Linked DNA regions of Homo sapiens. The protein of the gene in region 1 purifies or fractionates together with the protein of each later gene. This does not show direct contact. Each region holds a gene or a part of one and is shown on either strand. Other genes may lie near its edges.

Evidence for each region. Proteins that work in one complex are often made in the same cells at the same time.
Region 2: the proteins of IQCN (region 1) and KDM5C purify together in Homo sapiens (affinity purification with mass spectrometry; 2 studies listed by BioGRID and IntAct, with this or other methods). This does not show direct contact.

What each region holds. Positions count from the first base shown.
Region 1 is NC_000019.10:18,266,872-18,272,377, reverse strand, and holds part of IQCN (IQ domain-containing protein N), read left to right. Parts: intron 1-2,786; exon of another isoform or gene 2,787-2,790; 5' UTR 2,791-2,899; coding exon 2,900-2,912; intron 2,913-4,812; exon of another isoform or gene 4,813-4,851; coding exon 4,852-5,506. UniProt on the Homo sapiens protein: Essential for spermiogenesis and fertilization. May be required for manchette assembly in elongating spermatids.
Region 2 is NC_000023.11:53,218,708-53,222,207, reverse strand, and holds part of KDM5C (lysine-specific demethylase 5C), read left to right. Parts: intron 1-1,291; coding exon 1,292-1,369; intron 1,370-3,500. UniProt on the Homo sapiens protein: Histone demethylase that specifically demethylates 'Lys-4' of histone H3, thereby playing a central role in histone code. Does not demethylate histone H3 'Lys-9', H3 'Lys-27', H3 'Lys-36', H3 'Lys-79' or H4 'Lys-20'.

The DNA.
Region 1 (5,506 bases):
GGTGGGTGGATCACCTGTGGTCAGGAATTTGAGACCAGCCTGACCAATATGATGAAACCCCATCTGTACTAAAAATACAAAAATTTGCTAGGCGTGGTGGCAGGTGCCTGTAATCCCAGCTGCTCAGGAGGCTGAGGTAGGAGAATCGCTGGAAACCGAGAGGTAGAGGTTGCAGTGAAAGGAGATCGCGCCACTGCACTCCAGCCTGGGCGACAAGAACAAAACTCAAAAGAGAGAGAGAAAAAAAAAAAGGCCAGGCGCGGTGGCTCACGCCTGTAATCCCAGCACTTTGGGAGGCCGAGGCAGGCGAATCACCTGAGATCAGGAGTTTGAGACCAGCCTGGCCAACATGGTGAAACCCCGTCCCTCCAAAAACAAAACAAAACAAAACAAACAAAATTAGCTGGGTGTGGTGGGATTCATGCCTGTAATCCCAGCTACTCGGGAGGCTGAGGCAGGAGAATCGCTTGAACCCAGGAGGCGGAGGTTGCAGTGAGCCAAGATGCTGAGTGCCGCTGCACTCCAGCCTGGGGGACAGAGTGAGACTCTGTCTCAAAAATCATAAATAAATAAATGATAATAAACGAACAGAGCCCCCACGGTGGCCCATACACATTGAAGGCCTCCTGCCCCAGCAACACTTAGGTTTCCAGTGCACATCCAGAGCACCAACTGTTGATAACCTGTTCCCACATCTGCACCCTGGAGGGTGGGCCTTTTGCTTGTTTTGCAACTCCAGACCAGCTCTGGCTTGGCCGATCCAGCAATTATCTCCGTTAACTTGTTAGGCGGGACCATACTTTCTCCAAGGAAGTCTGAATGCTCTCCAAATTTGCCCCTTTTTTGGGGATACTCCCTCAGCCCTAAAGTACCACATAGAGTTTCCTTTTATCTTTTTTTTTTTTTTTTGAACTGAGTTTCGCTCAGTCACCCAGGCTGGTGTGCAATGGTATGATCTCAGCTCACTGCAACCTTTGCCTACTGGGTTCAAGAGATTCTCCCGCCTCAGCCTCCTAAGTAGCTGGGATTACAGGCACCTGCCATCATACCTGGCTAATTTTTGTATTTTTAGTAGAGACAGAGTTTCACCATGTTGGCCAGGCTGGTCTTGAACTCCTGACCTCACGTGAGCCACCCACCTCGGCCTCCCAAAGCACTGGGATTACAGGCGTGAGCCACTGCGCCTGGTTTTTTTTTTTTTTTTTTGAGACAGAGTCTCACTCTGTCGCCCAGGCTGGAGTGCAGTTGCGTGATCTCGGCTCACTGCAATCTCCATCTCTCGGGTTCAAGTGATTCTCCTGCTTCAGCCTCTGAAGTAGCTGGGATTACAGGTGCATGCCACTGTGCCTGGCTAAGTTTTGTATTTTTAGTAGAGACGGGGTTTCACCATGTTGGCCAGGCTGTTCTCGAACTCCTGACCTTGTGATCCACCTGCCTTGGCCTCCCGAAGTGCTGGGATGACAGGTGTGAGCCACCATGCCTGGCCTCCCAGGTTACCTTTTATCTTATACTTACTCTTTAATCACAATCTTTTTTTTTTTTTTTTTGAGACAGGGTCTCAGCCAGGCACCGTGGCTTACACTTGTCATCCCAGCTACTTGGGAGACTGAGGCACAAGAATCACTTGAACCTGGGAAGCAGAGGTTGCAGTGAGCCGAGATTGTGACGCTGCACTCCAGCCTGGGCAAAAGGGTGGGACTCTGTTTTAAAAACAAAAAAGAGATAGGGTCTCATTCTGTCGCTCAGGCTCGAGTGCAGTGGTGCCATCGTAGCTTACTGCAGTCTCAACCTCCTGGCCTCAAATGATCCTCCTGTCTCAGCCTCCCGAGTAGCTGGGACTACAGGTGCATGTCACCATGACTGGCTAATTTTTATGTTTTTAGTAGAGACGGGTTTTACCATGTTGCCCAGGCTGGTCTGGAACTCCTGGCCTCAAGTGACCCACCCACCTTGGCCTTCCAAATTGCTGGGGTTACAGACGTGAGCCACTGTGCCCGGCCTATTTTTTTTTTTTTTTTGAGACAGTTTTGCTCTTGTTGCCCCAGATGGAGTACAATGGCACGATCTCAGCTCACTGAAATCTCTGCCTCCCAGGTTCAAGATATTCTCCTGCCTCAGCCTCCTGAGTAGCTGGAATTACAGGCGTCAACCACTATGCCTGGCTAATTTCTTGTATTTTTAGTAGAGACGGGGTTTTACCATGTTGGCCAGGCTGGTCTCGAACTCCTGACCTCAGGTGATCCACCCTCCTCGGCCTCCCAGAGTGCTGGAATTACAGGCGTGAGCCACGCCTGGCCAATTTTTTTTTTTTTTTTTTTTTTTTTTTAAGAGACAGTTCTTGCTTAGTTTCCCAGGCTGGTCTCAAACTTCTGTCCTCAAGTGATCCTCCCATCTTGGCCTCCCAAAGTGCTGGGATTGCAGGCAAGAACCACTGTGCTCAGCCTGGACGCCATTTCTGATGCCTGGATATCATGCCCTTGTATGATTAATTTAAGCCTGTCTCCATTGATAATTTTGGTTTCTTCCAGTTTTTCCTCTGCTAAACAATACAGTGTTAAACATCCTTGAACATACTTCTGTATTCATTTGTAGCAGAACCTCTACCAATCACTGTTTTGGTTATTTCCAGTTGTTTTGTTTGATTTCTAGCTACAAAATAACACTGGAATAAATTTCCTCATCTTTGCACATTTTTTTTTTTTTTTAGAATTTAGCTTTTTTAGAATTTAGAAATTTTAGAATTTAGCATTTTTGCTTTTAACATTTCTTTTTGTGTTGGTCTTGAGCCAGCCCAGGGCAGTGTTGCTGCATATTGCATGGATGAAAGGCTGAAGGCTGCCTCCTCTTGCAGGCTGGCTTCTGAGATTGCACCTTCTTCTCCTGCTACTCCTCCAAATCTATGACCCTTCAAGGTAAGAAGATGGTCTATGGGCAAGGGGTCTGGCTAGTCCAACCTGAAGAGAGGGGCTTCTGCCAAACAAGTGTGCTGTGCTCCAGGCTATGCATCAGGGTGGCTTGACAGTGTCCCAGCTCTCTCTGCATCCTAGTTACTTCTGAAAGCCACAGTCACCACTTTTTCTTCCTTCTTTCCATCCTTCCATATGCCATTTACCTACCCATCCCCTAATCCACCCACCCACCCATCCACCCATCAGTCTACCTCCTGTTGGGTTATCTCTTCACCAGTCTTTCCAGCTCTCTTTAATTTCCCTCCCTCCCTTGCTTCCTTCCTTCTTTCCTTTTATTTGACACGGAGTTTCACTTCTGTTGCCCAGGCTGGAGTGTGATGGCGTGATCTTGGCTCACTGCAACCTCCTCCTCCCGGGTTCAAGCAATGCTCCTGCCTCAGCCTCCCGACTAGCTGGGACTACAGGCTCATGCCACCATACCTGGCTCTTTTTTTTTTTTTTTTTTTTGAGACAGAGTCTTGCTCTGTCACCCAGGCTGGAGTGAGGTGGCGCGATCTCGGCTTACTGCAACCTCTGCCTACCGGGTTCAAACAATTCTCCTGCCTCAGCCTCCTGAGTAGCTGGGATTACAGGCACGAGCCACCATGCCGAGCTAATTTTTGTATTTTCAGTAGAGATGGGGTTTCACCACGTTAGCCAGGCTGGTCTCAAACTCCTGACCTTGTGATCCGCTCACCTCGGCCTCCCAAAGTGCTGGGATTACAGGCATGAGCCACTGTGCCTGGCCTACTTTTCTGTATTTTTAGTAGAGACGGGTTTCACCATGTTGGCCCGGCTGGCCTCGAACTCCTGACCCCAAGCAATCTGCCCACCTTGGCCTCCCAAAGTGCTGGAATGACAGACATGAGCCACCGTGCCGGGCCAATTTGCCTTTAACACTTTATTCATCAGCTTTATTTACCTATTCATCCAAACCTTCATCTGTCTTTCCAACCCATCTACCATTCACTCATCGACTGATTCATCCATTCAGTATCTAGTCCTGTATCTATCTGTCCATCCAACTTCCAATCCACTCACCATTTATCAGTCAAGATGCCCCCCCCACCCAATACCTACCCATTCACAGCTTGGAACCAAGCTCTATGACTGAGATGGGGACACAGAAATGACTCTGTCTTCTAGGATTCACAATCAATGGGGAGAGGCAAATAATCTCCCCCACCACACTTCTCTCTCTCTCTTTTTCAAACACACACACACACACACACACACACACACACACACACACACAGAGGCAAACAGGAAATTTCCAAAACATTGTGATCAGTGCTAAACCCAGGGTACATCCAAGATAAAGTTTGAAAAGCAGGCCGGGCGCGGTGGCTCACACCTGTAATCCCAGCACTTTGGGAGGCTGAGTCAGGTGGATCACCCGAGGTCGGGAGTTCGAGACCAGCCTGGCCAACATGGTGAAACCCCGTCTTTACTAAAAATACAGAAAAGTAGCCAGCCAGGCATGGTGGCGTGCACCTGTAATCCCAGCTACTCGGGAGGCTGAGGCAGGAGAATCGCTTGAACCCAGGAGGCGGAGGTTGTGGTGAGCCAAGATCACAGCATTGCACTCCAGCCTGGGCAACAAGAGCAAAACTCTGTCTCAAAAAAAAAAAAAAAAAGAAAAGAAAAAAGAAAAGCAGGTAAGTGGTCGGGCATTCAGGTGTCATACACTGTGTGCCAAGATGAAGTGGCCGTAGGGTGATGAGAGGTGGATATAAGGATGGCAAAGACCACTTGGGAGAGGGAGGGATGGAAAAAGGGAGGCGGAAGATCGCAACGTGCCAGGAACAAGATCTGGGCCTGGGGGGCCAGTGTCCACCCCAGCCAGGAGACCTCTTGTTTGCAGGACCTGCTACACCCTGACCACCCCCTGCCGCCCCCACAGGCAGAGCTGACCTGTCCGGTAATCAAGGCAATGCAGCCGGCCGCCTAGCTACAGTTCACGAGCCAGTTGTCACCCAGTGGGCGGTGCATCCTCCAGCCCCCGCTCACCCCAGTCTCCTGGACAAAATGGAGAAAGCGCCTCCACAGCCCCAGCACGAGGGCCTCAAGTCCAAGGAGCATCTTCCGCAACAGCCTGCCGAAGGCAAGACGGCGTCCCGCCGCGTCCCACGCCTCCGGGCTGTGGTCGAGAGCCAGGCCTTCAAGAACATCCTGGTAGACGAGATGGACATGATGCACGCCCGTGCAGCCACGCTCATCCAAGCCAACTGGAGGGGCTATTGGCTCCGGCAGAAGCTGATTTCCCAGATGATGGCGGCCAAGGCCATCCAGGAGGCCTGGCGGCGCTTCAACAAGAGACACATCCTTCACTCCAGCAAGTCGTTGGTAAAGAAAACGAGGGCGGAGGAGGGGGACATACCTTATCACGCCCCACAGCAGGTGCGCTTCCAGCATCCGGAAGAGAACCGCCTTCTGTCCCCGCCCATCATGGTGAACAAGGAGACCCAGTTCCCTTCCTGTGACAATCTGGTCCTCTGCAGACCCCAGTCGTCCCCCCTCCTGCAGCCCCCAGCAGCTCAGGGTACCCCAGAGCCCTG
Region 2 (3,500 bases), on another chromosome or scaffold:
TGTCTCTCCCCCCCGCCCACGTGTATGCATGTATGTATGAACATTGATGTCTGGTGTAGTGCAAAGGCCTTGGATCAGAGGTCAGAAGACGTGGGTTCTTGGCCCCACCACTAACTCAGCATGTAATTTTGGAAATTTCACTTTTTTTCTCTGAGCCTCACTTTCCCCATTTATAAAATGAGAACATTGGTTTAGGTTACTTTAGGTTGATTTCACCACCCCAGCAGGAGCCAGGGCTCTGGGAAGGAGAGGTCTGCATAGGAGGTTGGAAAGGGGTGTTGGAGAGGGGGTTCTTCACAGCTGACCTTTGGGCAGGACACAGCAAGCTCCAACTTGGCAGAGCAGAGTGTCTCCCACTTTCATGATCTTTCCCTGACTTCCCTCCCCAAATCCTCCCATTCTTTGCCACCACAGTCAGGCATCCCAGCACTTACCCCCACCCCCTGGGGCTTCCTCCCCTGCCTCTTCCTGTACCAGGCAGGTGTATGAGAGAGGATCTACAGGAAGCCTTCCAGACTGGGTGAGTGATACACATACTTGCTCCCTGTTCCTTGCTCTTCCCTGCAGTGTCTATCTCAGGCCCTTTAAACTGAGAGAACAAACATTAAAGGCCCAAACCTTTACGTCCTGCCACAATCGGACCTGAGCTACCCTGCATGTGTATTGTGAGGTGTGGTCAGCCTTAGATGTCAGGTCATAACGGTGACTCCTTTGAATAACATTTTCATTTGAAAACTAGTTTTAATTTTCCATATTGGTCTGGCAAGGAAGCCAGGGCTAGAGTTCATATTCCCACCTCACAGATGAGAAAACAGGTTCAGAAAGCTAAAATCTCATAGCTAGTAAGTAGCGGATCTAGAACATGAACCCATATCTTCTGACTCTAGATCCTGTGTGCTTTCCAGTACTCCCAGGCCTGTGTGTCCTACAGCACGTGCCTAGGGGATAAGGAATTAATGTGGGTGTGGAGAAGGTTTAGGGTCAACAAAACAGAGGCTCCATCTCTTAATTTCTTGAAATCCTGGCACTGTACTGTTGGGTGGGACTCAGGAGAAGTTTCCTAGGGCATGTGCATGGGGCCTTGGGTGCAGACTTGAGGGGCTGCTAGACTCTTGTGAGTTCTGGGGGGAGGTGGGGGTGGGTGGTTGGGTAGGATGTTTGCAGGTTAAAGGGTCTGGAGTGGCTAGAGGTTTGGGAAGGTGCCAGTGGGATTCCGAGCTGCTTTTGGTGACTTCCGGTCTTACACTATGCTGAGATAACTCAAGTCCCTTTCCCCTCTCTACCCTCTCAGGACTGGCAGCCACCCTTTGCTGTGGAAGTGGACAACTTCAGGTTTACCCCCCGAATCCAGAGGCTGAATGAGCTAGAGGTGAGAAGACTAGGAGCTGGTGGTGGGGTTGGGAGAATGTATACCTGAGTTCTAATCCCACTTCCCTTATAGTTTCTCTGGCTGAGGTACTTTACCTAGCTAGGCCTTTATTCTCTCTTCTGTGAAATTGCATTACTTTAGTGTGCCCAGGGCGTGGAAGAAGCTTTAGAGCTCTAAATATAACCAAGAGCCAGGGGCATTTAGCATTTGTGATTTGATAGCCCAAAGGCTGGGGACATATATCCCTTTCTCACAAAGGTTTGCTACTTCTGAAACTCCCCTGTAAACTAGCCTACCCTAGCTGAGTCAACAAAAAGGAATTATGGAACTGGCTGATACCCCTTCTTCCTTGGCCAGCTGAATGTGGCTTCATATATCCAATTCATCCACAGCCCTGTGCTTTCTACTTTGCTTCCATGGGTGCTTGGTAAGGTGGGAGTTTGGGTAGATGGGCAGAACAACACAAGAACTGGGCTCTGTGGAGGCTGGAATGGTTAGAGACTTGGCCAGGGGTCAGGCAGGTAGGATTTTCCTTCTCCCTTTTGTTCTGTACAGGAAGTCCAGGCCCTTTTCATGGACAGGTGGGGTTTTTCCTGCTTGAGAATGCCCTGGGGTAGTGAGATTAGGTTCCCTAAAGCCAGTTCCACGTAAGATCCTGGAGTTTTCCATGGCAGCTCTAGGTTAGGCATATGTTGCCACTCCCTCCCCCATTATTATGTACCCACAAATCTTAATAGATGTCCAAGGGGTGGGGCATTAGGCCCAGGCCCAGCTGAATACTTATACCCTAAAAGTTCACTTGTGTTCTAGACCAGAGTTCCTCAGCCTCGGCACTATTAACATTTTGGGAAGCTAAGGTGGGAGGATTGCTTGAGCTCAGGAGTTCAAGACCAGTTTGGGCAACATAGCAAGACCCCATCTCAGAAAAGAAAAATATATCTTGTCAGGTTTATAGGGGTACAGCTTGGGCAAGATGTTGCCTAGCATGACACAAGGGCAGGTTTTCTGTAGAGGGAGTGCTGACTAATAAGAAGGAGCAGGGATGAGGCCAACTTCAGAAAGCTAAGGGGCTGAGGTTGAAGGAGCACTTCCTTGCCCTTTGAGAGTTCTCACAGCCAAGGAACTGTAGGTTGTTTCTTTCTACAAATAGACCTTAGTTTTTCTCAACTATGAAATGGAAAGAGCTGTCTTTGTTCCCCCTAATGGGATCAGGGCAAGGTAGTGAATGGTAATGACTATCTAGTTCTTCCAAGAACCAGGCTCTCTGACTGGAGTGAGGAGGTTGTAGACTTGGGGCCTATGGGAGTCCTTCTTGGTTACTGAGATTTCAGGGAAGCATCATACATATCTTGTTTCTAGTCTCCTTGGCCCACATTGGGTCCTGGGTTGGCCAGGTGCTAGTGCTACTCTGATATACCATCTCTTAGTTCTAGGCCATTCTGTCTATAGTTATAGCATGCACTTTCACCCTTTAGCCACCATGGAACAAGTTTGGTGGTACATAAGGAGGTGCATGTGCCTTTTTGGAGCTTGCTTTCTCTGAAACATGCCTAGAGCTTAGATATAATTCTGAAATCTGCAGAGGATCTTCACTGGTCCCCTCATTAAGTCTACCCCTCTGGGGTAAGTGGACTGTGCAGTTATTTTCCTTTTATAATTATTAGTAAAAGGAAAAAGGAGTCCACAGTGGAACTGATTTGCTCAAGGCAGCATAGCAAATCAGTAGCAGAGGGAGAGCCAAAGCTCAAATTATTTGGCACCAAAATATCTTGATGCTTGCTGTGTGTCCTAACTCCTCTGAGCCTCTGTTTCCTCATCTGTATAGGAGATGATAATACTCACATGACCTTGTCAGGGAGATTAGAGGACATATCTAAAGCTTTTGGCAGTTGTGACCCTCTCTATTGGGACCTTGGGCTTCTCTGATTGACTGGAAGGTGACAAATGAGAGAGAGGTGGCTGGGTGCAGTGGTGCAGTGGCTTGTGCCTGTGATCCCAGCTCTTTGGGAGGCCGAAGTGGATGGATTGCTTGAGCTTAGGAGTTTGAGACCAGCCTGGTAACATGGTGAAACTTCATTGCTACAAAAAATACAAAATTAGCCGGGCGTGGTGGCGTGCGCCTATAGTTCCA